Regions from separate parts of the Homo sapiens genome. Here region 2 is linked to region 1. Evidence: fine-mapped expression QTL. A gene starts in region 1. The other region holds a variant in brackets. All regions are shown on one strand. Distances are from middle to middle.

What was found.
Region 2: its variant is fine-mapped to the expression of NDUFS5 in whole blood (INTERVAL, PIP 0.90).

The regions. Positions count from the first base shown.
Region 1 is chr1:39,020,559-39,031,251 of GRCh38, reverse strand. NDUFS5 (NADH:ubiquinone oxidoreductase subunit S5) reads right to left here and starts at 4,902. Exons shown (of 3, transcript NM_004552.3): 1 at 4,850-4,902; 2 at 2,312-2,529. The coding sequence starts at 2,527. RefSeq lists a silencer at 2,853-3,018 and enhancers at 3,789-4,374, 4,375-4,961, 4,821-5,070.
Region 2 is chr1:38,974,627-38,985,319 of GRCh38, reverse strand. No RefSeq gene overlaps it. Among named protein-coding and RNA genes, the nearest start is that of AKIRIN1, 11 kb to the left of the region's middle. The variant T/G (reference allele first, on the strand shown) is at 5,024.

The DNA of each region.
Region 1 (10,693 bases):
GCTTGAGCCCAGGAGTTTGAGACCAGCCTGGGCAACACAAGAAGACCCCATTTCTATTTTATATAAATAAAATCAAAATTAGGGCCAGGTGCAGTGTCTCACACCTGTAATCCCAGCATTTTGGGAGGCCAAGGCAGGCAGATCACCTGAGCTCAGGAGTTCGAGATCAGCCTGGGCAACATGGTGAAACCTTGTCTCTGCTAAAATACAAAAAATTAGCTGGGCGTGGTGGTGCACTCCTGTAGTCCCAGCTACTTGGGAGGCTGAAGTGGAAGAATCACCTGAACCCAAGTTGAATCTGCAGTGAGCTGTGAACACGCTACCGCACTCCAGCCTGGGCGACGGGAGTGAGACGCTGTCTCAAAACATAAATTAAAATTAATCAACCAACAACAAATGAGTGGTGGCAGAACCAGCATCAGAACCTGACTCTCCTAACTCCCAATCCAATGTTCTTTCCACCTTACTACAATGCCTCCTGTTGGTATCAATTTATCAAAATCTTTTTTTTATTTTCTTTTTTTTTTTTCTTGAGACAGAGTCTCGCTCTGTCGCCCAGGCTGGAGTGCAGTGGCACAATCTCGACTCACTGCAAGCTCTGCCTCCCGGGTTCATGCCATTCTCCTGCCTCAGCCTCCTGCCTCAGCCTCCCGAGTAGCTGGGACTATAGGCGCCAGCCACTACACCCAGCTAATTTTTTTGTATTTTTAGTACAGACGGGGTTTCACCATGTTGGTCAGGCTGGTCTCGAACTCCTGACCTTGTGATCCGCCTGCCTCGGCCTCCCAAAGTGCTGGGATTACAGGAGTGAGCTACTGTGCCGGGCCATCTTTTTTTTTTTTTTCTTGAGACGGAGTCTCGCTCTGTCGCCCAGGCTGGAGTGCAGTGGTGTGTTCTCAGCTCACTGGAACCTCTGCCTCTCAGTTTCAGGCGATTCTCTTGCCTCACCCTCCTGAGTAGCTGAGATTACATGCCCCTGTCACCATGCCTAGGTAATTTTTGTATTTTTAGTAGAGACGGGGTTTCACCATGTTGGCCAGGCTGGTCTTGAACTCCTGACCTCAGGTGATCCGCCCACCTTGGCCTCCCAAAGTGCTGGGATCACAGGCATGAGCCACTGCATGGGATTTTTTTAAATTTGTTTTTTTGGTTTTTTTTTTAGAGGCAGAGTCTCGCTCTGTCGCCCAGGCTGGAGTGCGGTGGCACGATCTCGGCTCCATGCAACCTCCGCCTCCCGGGTTCAAGCAATTCTTCTGCCTCAGCCTCCCGAGCAGCTGGGACTATAGGCACCCACCACCATGCCCTGCTAATTTTTGTATTTTTAGTAGAGACAGGGTTTCACCATCTTGGCCAGGCTGGTCTCAAACTCCTGACCTCGTGATACACCCGCCTCAGCCTCCCAAAGTCCTGGGATTACAGGCGTGAGCCACCGTGCCTGGCCAACTCATTCAACTTTTGAGGAGGTGAACACTAAGCTGTTAACATCCCTTTTCCACTGCATCGTTGTTCACGCTCATGTACAGCAATCTCATTAACACCTCCATCTTCTTCAGAGTGGAATGAATCCAAAGATGTTGAATGTAATGGATTTGCAAGGTTAAACCTCTTTTCCAATGAGGATTCAATGGATTTGAACATATTTTCACCCAAAGATTTTCAAGGGTCAACATCCAAAACTAGTTGATATTCTCTGCTTCACAGCCAACTGAAAAAATGGGTATACACACACATGCAATTTCTAACCTGGTGGCTAAAGCAGGGTAAAATACTAAGGAAAATTTGGGAGAAGAGAAAGAATGCTGAGGAACAATGGACCATCCTCATATCTGAAGGCATTTAATTTCCTCATCATGGTACCAAAGTAGGAAAGGTATTTCACCAGAAAAGCTTTGCCAATTCACATTTGGCAAGCCACTGCTCAATGACCCACTAAAAACACTTAAGAGTAATCCCAGAGGAGGCCAGGCACGGTGGCTCATGCCTGTGATCCCACTACTTTGGGAGGCTGAGGGGGGCGGATCACCTGAGGTCTGGAGTTCAAGACCAGCCTGGCCAGCATGGTGAAATCCCGTTTCTACTAAAAATACAAAAATTAGCCAGGCGTGGTGGCAGGTGCCTATAATCCCAGCTACTCGGGAGGCTGAGGTACGCGAATCGCCTGAACCTGGGAGGCAGAGGCTACAGTGAGACGAGGTGGCGCCATCACACACCAGCCTAGGGGACAAGAGTGAGACTTCGTCTCAAAAAAAAAAAAAAAGAGTCCCAAAGGAACAAGAAAGTAATTCAGCTTCCACCTCCATCATTTCCTTACCGTTTTCTGCCGAAGCAAACACTCTACGAAATCATCATATTCTATCTTGCACTCTTTCTCTGCCCGAGTATAACCGATTCCATGTGCACATTCTATCCATTCTTTTTCAAAAGCATGGCATCGACCAGCCATCTTGTAGGGCTGTTCACCACTCTGGATTGTCAACCATCGATCTATGTTAAGGCCGAACCTTTTCTGGATGTCCAAGAAAGGCATGGCTGTAATGGAAGATTTAAAAAAATAAGTAAATAAAATACCACAAGAGGGCAATCAACTGAGAAATTTCTAAGAAAAAATTAGATAATCATGCTAAGTAGCCCTCTAGAACACTGTTTGATATTATTCTCCTGATTTCTTCTCACCAAACTTTTTCATTAAATAGGTTCTTCCAGTTTATGGCAGATAAGCAGTTTTTGCGCTTTTTCAAAACTCAAGGAAAAGAGAACTATAACTAAAGAACAATGCATAGAAATCCTTTCTCGGTCAGGAGCGGTGGCTCACCTACCACGTGAGATGGAGTCTCCGTCTGTTACCCAGGCTGCAGCGCATGGTGCAATCTTGGCTCACTGCAACCTCCTCCTCCAGGGTTCAAGCGATTCTCCTGCCTCAGCCTCCCAAGTAGCTGGGACTACAGGTGCGCACCACCACGCCCAGCTAATTTTTGTATTTTTAGTAGAGATGGGGTTTCAGCATGTTGGCGAGGCTGGTCTTGAACTCCTGACCTCAGGTGATCCGCCCGCCTTGGCCTCCCAAAGTGCTGGGATTACAGGTGTGAGCCACTGCACCTGGCCTAAATTTTTTTTTTAAATCAGCCACTTGTGGGCCAGGCGCGGTGGCTCATGCCTGTAATCCCAGAACTTTGGGAGGCCAAGGCGGGTGGATTACCTGAGGTCAGGAGTTCAAGACCAGCCTGGCCAATATGGTGAAATCCCGTCTCTACTAAAAATACAAAAAAATTAGCTGGGCGTGTTGGCACATGCCTGTAATCCCAACTATTCGGGAGGCTGAGACAGGAGAACTGCTTGAACTGGGGAGACAGAGGTTGCAATAAGCCAAGATCCGCCATTGTACTCCAGCCTGGGCGACAGAGCGAGACTCTGTCTCAAAAAAAAAAAAAAAAAAAAAAGAAGAAGAAGAAAAAAAGAATTTGGATCCTTTGGTCAGGTTCTCTGTCTCAAAAAAAAAAAAAAAAAAAAAAAAAGGCACTTGTGGTGGTATGTGCGCCTGTAGTCCCAGCTACTCCTAAGGCTGAGGCAGGAGACTGAGGCCAGGAGTTCAAGGCTTCAGTGAGCTATGACCTGGCCACTGCACTCCATCCTGGGCAACAAAGCGAGATCCTGTCTCAAAAAAAAAAAAAAACCAGAGCGAAAGAAATGGGTTAAGACTTACTTTGTAGACTATTACAGACAGTAGGGAAAAAAATTTACATGCAAATACATAATAATGTTAAATGTAAAAACACACACACAAAAACAAACCCTGACTGCCTAAAATGACTGAAAGGAAGCGCGCGCACACCCACAAATATCAATATAAATGTGTACTCATGGTAGATTTAAAGGTGAATTTAGTTGGGCGCAGTGGCTCACGCCTGTAATTCCAGCACCTTGGGAGGCCGAGGCGGGCGGATCACCTGAGGCCGCGAGTTCAAGACCAGCCTGACCAACATGGCGAAACCCTCTCTCTACTAAAAAAATACAAAATTAGCCGGGCGTGGGGGCGCATGCCTGTAATCCCAGCTACTCGGGAGTCTCAGGGAGGAGAATCGCTTGAATCCGGGAGGCAGAGGCTGCAGTGAGCCGAGATCGCGCCACTCTGCACTCCAGCCTGGGCAACAAGAGCGAAACTCCATCTCAACAAAAAGGTGAATTTAACTTCTTAAGTTCCTTCCCATCCCTCAGTCATCATTTACTGAGTAGTTACGTTCCAGGCACTCAGATGCGGGGGAAAGCAGCTCCAACGTAAGCACCAGAGACACACACTCGGAATTGCGAATACACTGCAAGGAACACGAGTGGGTAAGAGCTCGAAGGAGGAAGCACGAACTCTGCCCGGAGACTTGAAAATGCCTTTAACATGGCTTGCGAGTTCGCCAAGTGAAGATCAGTGGGCAGAGTGTTCCAGTTGGGCAACAGCCCGGAGTTACAGCCGGAAGTGCTGGCTATGTTTGGGGGACAATGGAGCGCAGCGTGCATGACGGTGAAAAGAATGAAATGAGCTCAGGAGGCCGGCGGGGCCGAAATCACGCAGAGCCTGGAAAGCTGGGATAAGGATCGTAGACTTTAGGTTAAGAAACAGAAAGCCAAAACATTAGTCCGGCAAAAACCTAAACAAATGTGGAAAGTGGAGAGAGCGGCAATCTCCAGGCTTCGGTGCCATTAGCTGTGGAGGTGAAGCGGCCTGGGAGGGCAGGGAACACGCCCTGAGTTCAGGTCTGGGAGAAGGGGACACACAGCAAGCCAAGAGGAAATCTGTTAAAGAGACCTCGGAAGGAAGGTCCTTAAGCTAAGCTGCCGCGCGGACATAAGCAGCCCCTACCTACCCGATGCTCGTGCCCTTGACTCTTCTCTGGCCGCCGCTTCAGAACGACTAGCTAGCGACGCGGACGCCTGCCGTAAAGGATGACCTCAGCGAGACGTTTGCAGCGCGACGCCGGAAGCCGACCTTCCCTCAGCCGTCTCCCCACAAAACCATAGAAACCGAGCCCGTTGGCCTGGTACGGTGGCTGACGTCTGCAATCCCAGCACCTTGGAAGGCTGAGGGAGGAAGATCACTTCAGCCCAGGAGTTCGAAAACAGCCTGGGCAACATGGCGAAACTCCCCTCTCTACAAAAAATAAAAAATTAGCCGGGCGAGGTGGTGCATGCCTGTGGTTCCAGCTACTCAGGAGGTTGAGGTGGGAGGATCCCTTGAGCCCAGGAGATTGAGGCTGTAGTGAGCCATGATCACACCATTCCATTGCATTCCAGCCCTGGCAACAGAGCAAGACCTTATCTCAGGGGGAGAGTGAGAGAGAGAGGATGAAGAAGAGAGAGAGGAGGTAGAGAGAGAGAAAGGAAAAAAAACCCAAACCCATCAATTACAGAGACACAGGGAAGGCCTAGCCATTAGTGAGTTCTTGCTCCTTTCTTGCACTCTGCCTAGCATGCTCACGACAACACTGAGTGGTGAGAGACTTCACCAAAGTCACAGGAGAGAAAGAACACTGGCTCCCTGCCTACCCACTAGTGGTTAAGCACATGGACTATGAGCCCAAACCACCACGTGGGGTCAAATGTAGGCCCCCAGCCGGGCGCAGTGGCTCAGGCCTGTAATCCCAGCACTATGGGAGGCCGAGGTGGGCGGATCACAAGCTCAGGAGATCGAGACCATCCTGGCCAATATGGTGAAACCCTGTCTCTACTAAAAATACAAAAATTAGCTGGGTGTGGCAGCGAGTGCCTGTAATCCCAGCTAGTGGGGGGAGGCCGAGGCAGGAGAATCGCTTGAATCCGGGAGGCGGAGGTTGCAGTGAGGTGAGATCGCGCCACTGGACTCCAGCCTGGCGACAGAGCTAGATTCAGTCTCAAAAAAAAAAAAAAAAAAAAAAAAAAAAAAAAAAAAAAGTAGGCCCCCACCAATTTCGTGTGACTCTAGGAAAGTTTCTTAACTTCATTGTGCCTCAGTCTCCTCGTCTGTTAAGATAATTATGGTATTCACAATGGAGGCTTGCTATAGGGATTAACTGATTTATGTATAAAGCACTGAGGCGGTGGCTAGCACATGGGAAACATTCCAAGGCAGTCGCAGTTCTTTGATGTCTCAGCTTTCAGTTTGTGAATCAACTGCTACCATGCCTGTCATCTGTTCCAGAACCTCCAATGACTCCCTTTGACTACATCAGAGACTCTAAAGTGTTGTGTGTATGTCTTTGGGGGGTGGACCACAGGGTGCATGAGATATTATACATTGGAGGTATGGGAGGAAAATACTAGAACATATATATATATATATATATATATATATATATATATATATATATAAATATATATATATATAATTATTACTTTTGAGACAGATTCTCACTCCCATTGCCCCGCTGGAGTGCAGTGGTGCAATCACAGTTCACTGCAGCCTCAACCTCCCTGGGCTCTGGTGATCCTCCCACCTCAGCCTCCCAAATAGCTGGGACCACATGTGCATGCCACCATGTGCCTGGCAGTCTTTATTATAATTATTATTTTATTTGAGATAGGGTCTCACTCCATCACCCAGGCTGGAGTGCAGTAGTGCTATCATAGATCACTGCAGCCTCAAACTCCAGGGCTCAAGCAATCCTCCTGCTTAGCCTCCCAAGTAGCTGGGACTACAGACATGCCACTGTGCCCAGCTAATTCTTTTTTTTTTTTTTTTTTTGAGACAGAGCTTCACTCTGTCACCAGGCTGAAATGCAGTGGTGCAATCTTGGCTCACTGCAACCTCCACCTCCCAGGTTCAAGCGATTCTCCTGCCTCAGCCTCCTGAATAGCTGGGACTACAGGTGTGCGCCACCACTCCCAGCTGATTTTTGTATTTTTTTTTAGTAGAGACGAGGTTTCACCATATTGGCTAGGATGGTCTAGATCTGTTGACTTCGTGATCTGCCCGCCTCAGCCTCCCAAAGTGCTGGGATTACAGGCGTGAACCACTGCGCCCGGCCAAGCTAATTCTTTAAAAAAATTTTTTGTGGAGATCAGTATCTCTTTATGTTTCCCAGGCTGGTCTCCAGCTCCTGGGCTCAAGTGATCCTCCTGCCTGGGCCTCCCAATGTGCTGAGATTACAGGCATGAGCCACCATGCCTGGCCCTTTTATACATTTTTTTTTAACACTCTGAGAGAGAGTTGAGGGCAGGCTGCTTGTAAGGATAAGGCAGCCTCTTTTATACATTATTAACCTAAGAAAAAATGGGGTGCCCTTGAAAGAGTTTTTTAAGATTAGAAAACAAGGGCCAGGTGCAGTGGCTAATGCCTGTAATCCCAGCATTTTGGGAGGCTGAGGCAGGCAGATCACCTGAGTTCAGGAGTTCAAGACCAGCCTGACCAACATGGTGATACCCTGTCTCTACTAAAAATACAAAAAATTAGCCAGGTGTGGTGGCAGGCACCTGTAATCCCAGCTACTTAGGAGGCTGAGGCAGGAGCATCGCTTGAACTGGAGAGGCAGAGGTTGCAGGGAGCCGAGATCGCACCATTGCACTCCAGCCTGGGCAACAAAAGCAAAACTCTGTCTCCAAAAAAAAAAAAAAAAAAGGCAAAAGGAAGTCAGAAGGAGCCAGATCAGTACTGTAAGGTGGATGCCTAATGATTTCCCATCAAAACTCTTGCAAAATTGCCCTTGTTTGCTGAGAGAAATGAGCAGGAACATTGTTATAGCGGAGAATGACTCTGGTGAAGCTTTCCCAGGCATTTTTCTGCTAAAACTTTTGCTAGTTTTCTCAAAACACTCTCATAATAAGCAGATGTTATTGTTCTTTGGCCCTCCAGAAAGTCAATAAACAAAATGCCTTGAACATTAAAAAAAAAAAAACGAATGACATGACCTTTGCTCTTGACTGGTCCACTTTTGCTTTGACCAGACACTTCCACCTCTTGGTAGCCATTGCTTTGATTGTGCATTGTCTTTAGGATTGTACTGGTAAAGCCATGTTTCATCTCCTATTACAATTCTTCAAAGAAATGCTTCAGGATCTTCATCCTGCTTGTTTAAAATTCCCATTGAAAGCTCTGCAGCTGATCTGGGCATGATGGTTTGGCACCTGCCAAGTGGAATGTTTGCTCAACTTTAGTTTTTCAGTCAGAATTATGTAAGCCGAACCAAGTGAGATGCCTATGGTATTGATTATTATTTCTGCTGTTGTCAATCCACTTCAGTTAGGACACAAAATGTTTTTCTCATAAATTGATGTGGATGGTCTGCCACTGTGGGTTTCATCTTCAACATCATTTCATCCCTTCTTTATTTTGTTTCTTTTTGGAGATGGAGTCTTGCTCTGTCGCCCAGGCTGGAGTGCAATGGCGTGGTCTCGGCTCACTGCAACCTCCGCCTCTTGGGTTCAAGCAGTTCTCCTGCCTCAGCCTTCCCAGGTAGCTGGGATTATAAGAGCCCACCACAATGCCCAGCTAATTTTTGTATTTTTGGTGGAGACGGGGTTTCACCATGTTGGCCAGGCTGGTCTTGAACTCCTGACCTCAGGTGATTCGCCTGCCTCAGCATCTCAAAGTGCTGAGATTACAGGCATGAGCCACCACGCCTGGCCAAGTATTCTTAAAGAAAATAAATACTAGGAGTCTGTAGTAGAGGCACAGCCCGGCCTAATCTCATCCCTTCTTAAAACAAATTATCTGGCCACGTGCGGTGGCTCATGCTTGTAATCCCAGCACTTTGGGAGGCCGAGGCAGGTGTATCACCTGAGGTCAGGAGTTCAAGACCAGCCTGGCCAACATGGCAAAACCCCATCTCTACTAAAAATACAAAAATTAGCCGGGCGTGGTGGCAGGCGCCTGTAATCCCAGCTACCCAGGGAGGCTGAGGCAGGAGAATCACTGGAACGTGGGAGGCAGAGGCTGCAGCGAGCCTAGATCATGCCACTGCACTCCAGCCTGGGTGACAGAGTGAGACTCCCTCTCAAAAAACAACAACAAAAAACAATTTATCTATTTGTAAACTGCTGATTTCTTTGAGGCATTGTCCCCATAAGCTTTTCGTAAAGCTTCAATGATCTCACCATTCTTCCACCCAAGCTTAACCATAAACTTGATATTTGTTCTTGCTTCAATTTTAGCAGAATTCATGTTACTCTTATAGGGGCTCTTTTCAAACTAATGTCTTATCCTTCATAGTGCCTCAAAGTAGATCCTGCTCAGACATGTTATAACAAGTTAGTACAAATTTATTTTGGTGCAAAAATTTTTTGAAATCTATGCATAGTTTTTTCATAATACACATTTTTCATAAACTTTGTGAAGACCTCTTGTATGTCCAGCTGAATACTGCAGGATTATATAACTGGTAACTCATGGCCCTTGCCCACAAAGTGCTAGTGGCGAGTTATCACTACCTTTTCCAGTCCCCTGCCCCTTTTCTTGTTTGTTGATGGTGTCATCTTCCCAGCCACTTAGGCAGCAAACTCTGGAGTTGTATTCTGCCTTTTCCTTTTCTTTCATTTAGTATTTAATTACAGCACAAGTTCTGTCAAATATTCCTTCAACAAATTTCCAATTTATCTCTTCCTTCTTGTCTCCCAACTCCTCACTCCAATCTGTTCTGCATGACTGGTCATCCTAAAATACAGATTTCATCATATCATTCCTCAGAAATACCATGCAGGGTTAAGCATGATGGCTCATGCCTGTAATCCCAGCACTTTAGGAGACTGAAGTGGATTGCTTGAGCCCAGGAGTTCGAGACCAGCCTGAGCAACATAGTGAGATCTTGTCAATACAACAACAACAAAAAAAATTAAAAAAAAATTAGCTGGGCATGGTGGTGTGTTGCTTGTAGTCCCAGCTACTCAGGAGGCTGAGGCAGGAGGATCACTTGAGCCCAAAAGGTTGAGGCTGCAGTGAGCCATGATTGAGCTACTGAACTCCAGGCTGCAGTAAGCCATGATTGAGCTACTGAACTCCAGTCTGGGTGACAGAGCAAGACCCTGTCAAAAAGAGAGAGAGACAGAGAGACAGAGAGAATGGAAGGAAGGAGGGAGGGAGGGAGGGAGGGAAGGAAGGAAGGAAGGAAGGAAGGGAGGGAGGGAGGGAGGGAGGGAGGCTGGGTGTGGTGGCTCACACCTGTAATCCCAACACTTTGGGAAGGCAAGGTGGGTGGATCACCTGAGGTCAGGAGTTTGAAACCAGCCTGGCCAACTTGGTGAAGCCCCGTCTCTACTAAAAATATAAAAATTTGCTGGGCATGGTGGCAGGTGCCTGTAATCCCAAATACTTGGGAGGCTGAGGCAGGAGAATCACTTGAACCTGGGAGGCGGAAATTGCAGCAAGTCAAGATCACGCCATTGCACTCCAGCCTGGGCAATGGAGTGGGACTCTGTCTCAAAACAAACAAAAACAAAACAAAGACAAAAAACCACAAAAACAAACAAAAAAAACTCAACACCTTTTACAATAGCTGCAAAAAATAAAATAAAATATTTAGGAATATACCTAACCAAGGAGGCAAAAGACCTCTACAAGGAAAATTACAAAACACTGCTGAAAGAAATGATAGATGACACAAACAAATGGAAACACATCCCATGTTCATGGATGGGTAGAAATCAATATTGTGAAAATGACCATACTGCCAAAAGCAATCTACAAATTCAACGCAATCCCCATCAAAATACCACCACCATTCTTCACAGAATTAGAAAA
Region 2 (10,693 bases), 46 kb after region 1:
TATATTTATGTATTAATATATGTTATATATAATAAATTTCAGAAAGTCCATTAATATCCATTGCAGGCTAGGTGCAGTGGCTTATGCCTGTAATCCCAGCACTTTGGGAGGCCGAGTTGGGCAGATCACCTGAGGCCAGGAGTTTGAGATCAGCCTGGCCAACATGGTGAAACCCCTTCTCTACTAAAAACAAAAAAAATTAGCCGGGTGTGGTGGTGCACGCCTGTAATCCCAGCTACTCCAGAGGCTGAGGCAGGAGAATCGCTTGAACCTGGGAGGCGGAGGTTGCAGTGAGCTGAGATTGCGCCACTGCACTCCAGCCTGGGCGACAGAGCGAGACTGTCTCAAACAAACAAACAAACAAAAATCCATTGGATATCTATTGTATACTGATAGACTATGGAAATACATATATTTCTCATTGGATGTTGATAGGCTATCTGGAGATACATGATAAAAAGGCTAAAAAAAACTGAAATAGAAGAGACAGCTGGGCACGGTAGCTCATGCCTCCAATCCCAGCACTTTGGGAGGCCGAGGCATGTGGATCACCTGAGGTCAGTGTTTGAGACCAGCCTGGCCAACATGGTGAAACCCCGTCTCTACTAAAAATCCAAAATTAGCCAGATATAGTGGCACACACCTGTAATCCCAGCTATCAAGAGGCCGAGGCAGGAGAATCGCTTGAACCCGGGAGGTGGAAGTTGCGGTGAGCCGAGATCGTGCCACTGCACTCCAGCATGGGCAACAAGGGCGAAACTCCATCTCAAAAAAAGAAAAAAAAAAGGCCGGGCACGGTGGCTCACTCCTGTAATCCCAGCACTTTGGGAGGCCAAGGCGGGCGGATCATAAGGTCAGGAGATCGAGACTAGCCTGGCTAACACGGTGAAACCCCATCTCTACTAAAAAATACAAAAAAAAATTAGCTGGGCATGATGGCGGGCGCCTGTAGTCCCAGCTATTTGGGAGGCTGAGGCAGGAGAATGGCGTGAACCCGGGAGGTGGAACTTGCAGTGAGCCGAGATTGTGCCACTGCACTTCAGCCTCGGCGACAGAGCGAGACTCCGTTTCAAAAAAAAAAAAAAAAAAAGAAGAAAGGCAATGAGAACTTGAGAAAAATACAATGATATTGTGATTACACAGATTTAGTACTGACTAATAGGCAAAAACACAGAGGAACTTAAGAGCTGAATAAACAAAGTTGATTTAATAATCATTTATGAGGCCGGTGGCTCACACCTGTAATCCTAGCACTTTGGGAGGCTGAGGTGGGCGGATCGCATAAGGTCAGGAGTTCAAGACCAGCCTGACCAACATAGAGAAACCCCGTCTCTACTAAAAATACAAAAATTAGCTGGGCATGGTGGTGGGCGCCTGTAATCCCAGCTACTCCGGAGGCTGAGGCAGGAGAATTCCTTGAACCCGAGAGGCAGAGGTTGCAGAGAACCAAGATCGTGCCATTGCATTCCAGCTGGGCAACAAGAGTGAAACTCCCTCTTAGAAAAAAAAAAGAAAAAAGAAAAAAGAAAAAAATATATACATAAATACATGACCTAAAAACTCATCTTAAGAAAAAAATAAAAACTAAAAGCTAAAAGAGATAAAGCTGAAATTAGTAAACTAGGAGATAAAAATAGTAAAAAGGATGAATAAATCTGAAAGCTGGTTTTTTTTTAAAAAGGATAATAAACTCCTTAAAAATCTCACTAAGGAGACAGGAAAAAAATGTTTAAGATTGGGAATAAGAAAGGAGACAATCATAAATAAATTAGAAATGAAAAATAATTGTAAGAGAATACTGCGTACAACTTGATGGCAACACATTTTTTTATTTTATTTCTTTTGAGACAGTCTCACTCTGTCGCCCAATCTGGAGTGCAGTGATGCGATCTTGGCTCACTTCAACCGCTGCCTCCTGGGCTCAAGTTATTCTTGTGCCTCAGCCTCCCAAGTAGCTGGGCTTATAGGCGCACACCACTATGCCTGGCTAACTTTTTTATTTTTAGTAGAGATGGGGTTTCACCATGTTAGCCTGGCTGGTCTTGAACTCCTGGCCTCAAATGATCCAGCTGCCTCGGCCTCCCAAAGTGTTCTGATTATAGGCGTGAGCCACCGTGGCCAGCCAAACCTCTTTTTTTTTCTTTTTCTTTTTTTTTTTGTGGGGGGAGGCGGGGAATAGAGTCTCGTTTTGTCACCCAGGCTGGAGTGCAGTGGCGTGATCTCGGCTCACTGCAACCTCCACCTCCCAGGTTTAAGCGATTCTCCTGCCTCAGCCTCCCAAGTAGCTGGGACTACAGGGGCATGCTACCATGCCCTGCTAATTTTTGTATTTTTAGTAGAGATGGGGTTTGGCCATGTTGGCCAGGCTGGTCTCGAACTCCTGACTTCAGGTGATCCACCTGCCTCGGTGGATCCCAAAATGCTGAGATTACAGGCTTGAGCCACCCCGCCTGGCCTAAACCTCTTTTCTGTATTAATTACCCAGTCTCAGGTATTTCTTTATAGCAATGTGGGAATGAACTAATACACATCACAAAAGAGACCTGAAAGGTGATTAAAGATCCACCTTTAGATAATAAAAAGAACAGAACCTAATAGCTTTCTAACTATGTTCCATTTAACCTTTAAAGAACACACAGGTCCATAGTTATTTGACCTATTACAGTTATTTGATCCAATCGAAAATTGAGAAGCTCCCCAATTCATTTTATGCTGCTGACATAATTTTAAAACCAAACCTTGAAAAATGTAGTACCAAGAAAGAACTATAGACCAACTTTACTAATGAACAGAGGCAAACATTCCAAATAAAACATTAGCAACTGGAATGCAGTACACAAGAGTTGTTCCCGAAACACCAGGGGTTCGGTCTAGGTCCTACTGTTCACAGCACAGAAAGCCAGTGACTGAGACTATGAGTATTGCTAGAAGAAGGCTTTAACTGGGTGCTGCAGCTGAGGAGATAGAAGCTTGGTCTCAAATCCATCTCCCTGACCAGCTAAAATTTGGGGTTTATATATCAGGGAAGAAATGTAACTATCTATGAGAAAACAGAAACTCAGAAGGGTAAGGAAGCAATCATGATGAATTGGGGGCCTGGAGTCTCATTGTCTGGAGGAGATGATCTGGTGAGTTTCAGTTCTTTGATACGTTTTGAGAGGACTGGAGATCCTTTCTTGAGGAAGAAACTCAGATAAAACAAATGTTAAGTTTCCGGCAGGGCGCGGTGGCTCATGCCTGTAATTCCAGCACTTTGGGAGGCCAAGGTGGGCGGATCACGAGGTCAGGAGATCGAGACCATCCTGGCTAACATGGTGAAACCTCATCGCTACTAAAAATACAAAAAATTAGCCGGGTATGGTGGCAGGTGCCTGTAGTCCCAGCTACTCGGGAGGCTGAGGCAGAAGAATGGCATGAACCCGGGAGGCGGAGCTTGCAGTGATCCGAGATTGCACCACTGCACTCTAGCCTGGGCGACACAGCCAGACTCCATCTCAAAACAAACAAACAAACAAACAAACAAAACAAATGTAAGTTTCAAGCTTTTGGATCAGAAGGGTCAATTTCTATGTTTATCCAAAAACAACTGTCTATGGGACTATTGGGTTGGTTTCACAGTCACACCAGCTTACCATATCATTTAGGGGCCCAGGCAGATTCAAGTCCACAAGGTGACCAAACTGGCTCATTCCAAATGTATGAGGGTGGCTAGACTATCAGGAAGCATATCAACATAATTCATAAATTCCATGAATTGGCCGGGCTCTGTGGCTCACGCCTGTAATCCCAGCACTTTGGGAGGCCAAGGAGAGTGGATCGCCTGAGGTCAGGAGTTCAAGACCAGCCTGTCCAACACGGTGAAACTCTGTCTCTACTAAAAATACAAAAATTAGTCAGGCATGGTGGCGGGCGCCTGTAATCCCAGCTACTGGGGAGGCTGAGGCAGGAGAATCTCGAACCTGGGAGGCGGAGGTTGCAATCAGCTGAGATTGCGCCATTGCACTCCAGTCTGGGCAACACAAGCGAAACTCTGCCTCGAAAATAAATAAATAAATAAATATATTCCATGAATTAAAGAAGAAAGACCTTAAGATTATATCAATAGATGCTGAAAAGGCTTTAATAACATTCAATAGCCTTTCCTCTTCTTCTCTGTCTTTTTCTTTTTTTTTTCAGGGATCAGGTCTTGCTCTATTGCCAGGCTGGAGTGCAATGGTAGAATCGTAGCTCACGGGAGTCTCTAACTCCTGGACTCATGTGATTCTCCCTTCTCGGCCTCATGAGTAGCTGGGACTACAGGAGCTAGGACTGGCTAATTTAAAAAAAAAGTATTTTTATGGAGACAGTCTCGCTATATTTCCCAGGCTGGTCTCAAACTCCTGGTCTCAAGGGATTGTCCCACCTCAGCCTCCTAAAGCATTGAGATTCCAGGTGTGAGCCACTGCACCCAGCTGTACCAGTCTCAAGAATGTTCAGTTTACTCTAATCACATGTCAAAAGCATGTTTACCCTATTATTTAGGGGCACAGGCAAATACAAGTCCTCTAATGTACTTGAGAACCACAGTTATGAAAAAATATAATGAAAAGAAAAAAAAATGTAATGTTAAAAAATTAAGGCCAGGTGTGGTGGCTCACACCTGTAATCCCAGCACTTTGGGAGGCCAAGGCGGACAGATCACCTGATGTCAGGAGTTTGAGACCAGCCTGTCCAACGTGGCAAACCCTGTCTCTACTAAAAATTTAAAAATTAGCCAGGTGTAGTGGCGTGCGCCTGTAGTCCCAGCTATTCAGGAGGCTGAGGCAGGAGGATCACTTGAACCCAGGAGGTGGAGGTTGCAGTGAGCAAAGATGGCACCAGCTGCATTCCAGCCTGGGTGACAGAGCGAGACTCTATCTCAAAAAAAAAAAAAAAAAAAGAAATTAAGAGAGGTGGGGTGCAGTGATTCATACCTGTAATCCCAGCACTTTTGGGAGGTCAAGGCAGGAGGATCACTTGAGCCCAGAAGTTTTTAGTTTTTGTT[T/G]TTGTTTTTTTTTTAGATGGAATCTCGCTCTGTCACCCAGGCTGGAGTGCAGTGGCACTGATCTCGGCTCACTGCAAGCTCCGCCTCCCAGGTTCATGCCATTCTCCTGCCTCAGCCTCCCGAGTAGCTGGGACTACAGGCGCCCGCCACCAAGCCCGGGTAATTTTTTGTATTTTTAGTAGAGACGGGGTTTCACCATGTTAGCCAGGATGGTCTCCATCTCCTGACCTCATGATCTGCCTGCCTTGGCCTCCCAAAGTGCTGGGATTAGAGGTGTGAACCACCGTTCCTGGCCTGAGCCCAAGAGTTTGACACCAGCCTGGGCACCATAGGGAGACCCCAAGAGACAGAGACAAAAAGGGAGTCAGAGAGAGGAAGAGACAGACAGAGAGAGACAAAGAAGTCAAAGAGAAAGAGAGATGGAAGTAGTAAAGAAAAAACAGTGTACCCTATTCCTTTAAAAGCCAGGGTAAATTTAAAACCTATAATTGATAATTGAAGGTCTTCTCCGTGACCCTGTACCACTCCAATACCACCTTGTTGGCAGTGCAAACAAGGGCATAGCCTGAAAGCACTGAGGCCACTGACAACCCATAGCCTTCCTGTCAAAGATCCTTAACCCAGCAGGTTTCCTAACAGGGGATCTAAATCTTAATTAATTGCCATACAAAAGTCCAACCAGATCTAGGAGGAACTCCCTTCAGGACAGGATGATAGATGGTTCCTCCCAGGCAATTAAGGGAAAAAAAAAAGACACAGTGGGTATTCAGTAAGTGATAAGGGAACTCTTGTAGAAGCAGTTAGGAAAATTGCCTAATTATTGGTCTGCTCAAACGTGTGAGTTGTTTGCACTCAGCCAAATCTTAAAGTACTTACAGAATTAGGAAGGAGCCATCTATACCAATTCTAAGTTAATATGGACTGAACGAGGTTTTATTAATAGCAAAGGAAAATTAAAATCCCAAATTTACAACGTTTTTAACTAAAGTAAAGTTTGCTAAAAGTTAACAGTGTAACATGCATTATCCTACTACCACATACTCTCAAAGGATTTCTCAGACAGTTTGCAAGAAATAGCAAAATCTACCAGGCGTGGTGGCTCACGCCTGTAATCCCAGCACTTTGGGAGGCCGAGGTGGGCGGATCACTAGGTCAGGAGATCGAGACCATCCTGGCTAACACGGTGAAACCCTGTCTCTACTAAAAATACAAAAAATTAGCCGGGCGAAGTGGCAGGCGCCTGTAGTCCCAGCTACTCGGGAGGCTGAGGCAGGAGAATGGCGTGAACCCGGGAGGGGGAGGTTGCAGTGAGCCGAGCTAGTGCCACTGCAGTCCAGCCTGGGTAAAAGAGCGAGACTCCGTCTCAAAAAAAAAAAAAAAAAAAAAAAAGAAATAGCAAAATCTATCCAGTAAGGATAGTAACTACAATCCCAAATAGACTCTTTGGCAGCAGTGACTCTCCAAAACTGCCGAGGCCTAGACCTCCTCACTGCTGAGAAAGGAGGACTTTGTACCTTCTTAGGGGAAGAGTGTTGCTTTTACACTAACCTGTCAGGGATAGTACTAGATGCCACCCAGCGTTTACAGGAAAAGTCTTCTGAAATCAGACGATGCCTTTCAAACTCTTATACCAACCTCTGGAGTTGGGCAACCTGGCTTCTCCCCTCTCTATGTCCCGTGACAGCCGTCTTGCTATTACTTGCCTTCGGGCCCTGTATTTTTAACCTCCTTGTCAAATTTGTTTCCTCTAGGATCGAGGCCATCAAGCTACAGATGGTCTTACAAATAGAACCCCAAATGAGCTCAACTAACAACTTCTATCAAGGACCGCTGGACCGATCCACTGGCCCTTTGGCCTAAAGCATTCCCCTCTGGAGGACACTACAACTGCAGGGCCCCTTCTTTGCCCCTATCCAGCAGGAAGTAGCTAGAACGGTCATCGCCCAATTCCCAACAGTAGTTGGGGTATCCTGTTTAAAGGGGGGATTGAGAGGTGAAGCCAGCTGGGCTTCTGGGTCGGGTGGGGACTTGGAGAACTTTTCTGTCTAGCTACAGGATTGTAAACACACCAGTCAGTGCTCTGTGTCTAGCTAAAGGTTTGTAAATGCACCAATCAGCACTATGTAAAAACGCACCTATCAGCACTCTGTGTCTAGCTAAAGATTTGTAAATGCACCAATCAGCACTCTCTAAAAATGGACCAATCAGCACGCCATAAAATGGACCAATTAGCACTCTGTAGAATGGACTGATCAGCAGGATGTGGGTGGGGCCAAATAAGGGACTAAAAGCTGCCACCCAAGATGGCAGCCGCAACCCACTCGGGTCCCCTTCCACACTGTGGAAGCTTTGTTCTTTCACTCTTCACAATAAATCTTGCTGCTCCTCACTCTTTGAGGAGGAGCACCACCTTTAAGAGCTGTAACACTCATTGCGAAGGTCTGCAGCTTCACTCCTGAAGTCAGTGAGACCACAAACCCACCGGGAGGAACAAACAACTGCGGACATGCCACCTTTAAGGGCTGTAACACTCACCGGGAGGGTCTGTGGCTTCACTCCTGAAGTCAGCAAGACCACAAACCCACCGGAAGGAACCAATTCCAGACACACCTGTCACTAAAAAAAAAAAAAAAAAAAAAAAAAAAAAAAATTCTCAATAATATAAAATACCCAGGGCCCGGTGTGGTGGGACTTCCTGTAGTCCCAGCTACTTAGGAAGCGGATGCAGGATTGTTTGAGCATAGAAGTTCAAGGCCAGCCTGGTAACACAGTGAGACTCTGTCTCTAAAAAAAGATTTTTAAATTTTTTATCCTAAAAAATTTTTCATAGGCCAGGCATGGTGGCTCATGCCTGTAATCCCAGCACTTTGGGAGACTGAGGTGGGTGGATCACGAGGTCAAGAGACCAAGACCATCCTGGCCAACATGGTGAAACCCTGTCTCTACTAAAAATACAAAAATTAGCTGGGCGTGGTGGCACGTGCTGGTAGTCCCAGCTACTCGGGAGGCTGAGGCAGGAGAATCACTTGAACCCAAGAGGCGGAGGTTGCAGTGAGCTGAGATCGTGCTACTGCACTCCAGCCTAGAGCGAGACTCCGTCTCAAAAAAAAAATTTTTTTTTGTAGAGACGGCCTCCCTCTCTCACCCAGCCTGGAGTGCTGTGGTGCAATCTTGACTCCCTGAAGCCTTGAACTGCGGAGCTCAAGTTTTCCTCCCACCTCAGCCTCCTGAGTAGCTGAGACTACAGGCAAATGTCACCATGACTGGCTAATTAAAACAACTTTTTTTTTTGCTCATGCCTGTAATCCCAACACTTTGGGAGGCCGAGGTGGCTGAATCACTTGAGCCCGGGAGCCTGGGCAACATGGTGAAACTTTATCTCTACAAAAAATACAAAAATAAGCCAGGCGTAGTGGCATGAGCCTATAGTGCTAGCTACTTGGGAGGCTGAGGTGGGAGGATCACTTGAGACCAGGAGGCAGGTTGCAGTAAGCTGAGATCTCGCCACTGCACTCCAGTCTGGCTGACAGAGCCAAAATAAATAAATAAAAACAAAACAAAAAAATAAGACAAAACTGTAGAGACAGGATCTGGCTATGTTGCCCAGGCTGGTCTCCAACTCCTGGCCTCAAGCAATCCTCCTGCCTCAGCAGCCCCCAAAGTGCTGGGATTACAAGTGTTAGCCACCATGCCTGGTAAAAAGTTTTTTCAAATACCTATAAATAAGCTGAACAAAGTCACAGGATGTATATGAAGAATATAATAAAAATGTTACTGAACAACATAAAGTTCAAAGCTAGACAAGTAGAAAGTTATTTGTTCTTGGATAAGAAAACTTAACGTTGTAACAACAAAAATATTTAAAAATACTTATATTTAATGCAATTCCAATTAGAATTCTGGCAGGCAGGTTTTTTGTTTGTTTGTTTGAGACGGAGTCTCGGTTTGTCACCTAGGCTGGAGTGCAGTGGTGCAATCTCGGCTCACTGCAACCTCTGCCTCTGTTCAAGCAATTCTCCTGCCTCAGCCTCCCAAGTAGCTGGGATTACAGGCATCCACCACCATGCCCAGCTAATTTTTGTATTTTTAGTAGAGATGGGGTTTCTCCATGTTGGCTAGGCTGGTCTCGAACTCCTGACCTTGAACTCCTGATCTCAAGTGATCCACCTGCCTCGGCTTACCAAAGTGCTGGGATTACAAGCGTGAGCCACCGCACCTGGCCAGGCAGGCAGTTTTTAAGAAATCATTAAAATAACCTTAAATCCATATGGAAGAATTTATACCCTAGAATAAACTAGGAAAGTATGAACATGGAGTACAGTGAAGGGGAACTACTTGCTTAACCAGATACCAGAACATCCACAAACCTACTTTAATCAAATTAGTATAATATTGGCATAGGAATAGAATACTGGAAAAGAATAGAAAATCTAGAGGCTGGGCACAGTGGCTCACGCCCGTAATCCCAGCACTTTGGGAGGCCAAGGCGGGTGGATCACTTGAGGTCAGGAGTTTGAGACCAGCCTGGCCAACAGGGTGAAACCCTGTCTCTACCAAAAAATACAAAAATTAGCCGGGCGTGGTGGCATGTCTGTAATGCCAGCTACTCGGGAGGCTGAGGCAGGAGAATCCCTTGAATCTGGGAGGCAGAGGTTGCAGTGAGCTGAGATTGTGCCACTGAACTCCAGCCTGGGCAACAGAATGAGACCCTGTCTCAAAAAAAAAAAAGAAAAAGAAAAAAAGAAAAAAAAAAAGAAAATCTAGAACTAGATCCCAGTATGGAAGAGAGTTCAGCATATGACAATAGTGTTATTTGTTACAGCCAGGCAAAAAAAAATGGTTCATTTAGTAAATGATATTGAACTGTTTCTCTATATGAAAGAAAAATAATTATGAAAGATAATTTGACCCCTATGTCATACCATTTCAAAAGATGGTTTAGACCAGGTGCGGTGGCTCATGCCTGTAATCCCAGCACTTTGGGAGGCCAAGGTGAGCAGATCACCTGAGGTCAGGAGTTCGAGACCAGCCTGACCAACATGGTGAAACCCTGTCTCTAATAAAAATACAAAAATTAGCTGGATGTGGTGGTGCACGCCTGTAGTTCCAGCTACTTGGGAGGCTGAGGCCTGAGGATGGCTTGAACCAGGGAGACGGAGGTTGCAGTGAGCTGAGAGCACGCCATTGCATTCCAGCCTGGGCAACAGAGGGAGACTCAGTTTCAAAACAAAAAAAAAAGATGGTTTAAACTTTTACATTTAAATGAAAACATAAAATTAAAGAACAAAAATCTTAGAATAAAATAGAAGAGACCACATGTACAATGTAGGTATGAAATAGACCTTCTTAACCACAGCAGCAAACCCAGCTGTTATAAAAGAAAGAACTTCAGGGCTGGGCGTGGTGGCTCACGCTTGTAATCCCAGCACTTTGGGAGGCCGAGGCCAGTGGATTACCTTTGGTCAGGAGTTTGAGACCATCCTGGCCAACATGAGGAAACCCCGTCTCTACTAAAAATACAAAAATTAGCCAGGCATGGTGGCGTGTGCCTGTTGTCCCAGCTACTTGGGAGGCTGAGGCAGGAGAATCGCTTGAACCTGGGAGATGGAGGTTGTGATGAGCCAAGATCATGACACTGCACTCCAGCCAGGGCAACAGAGCGAGACTCTG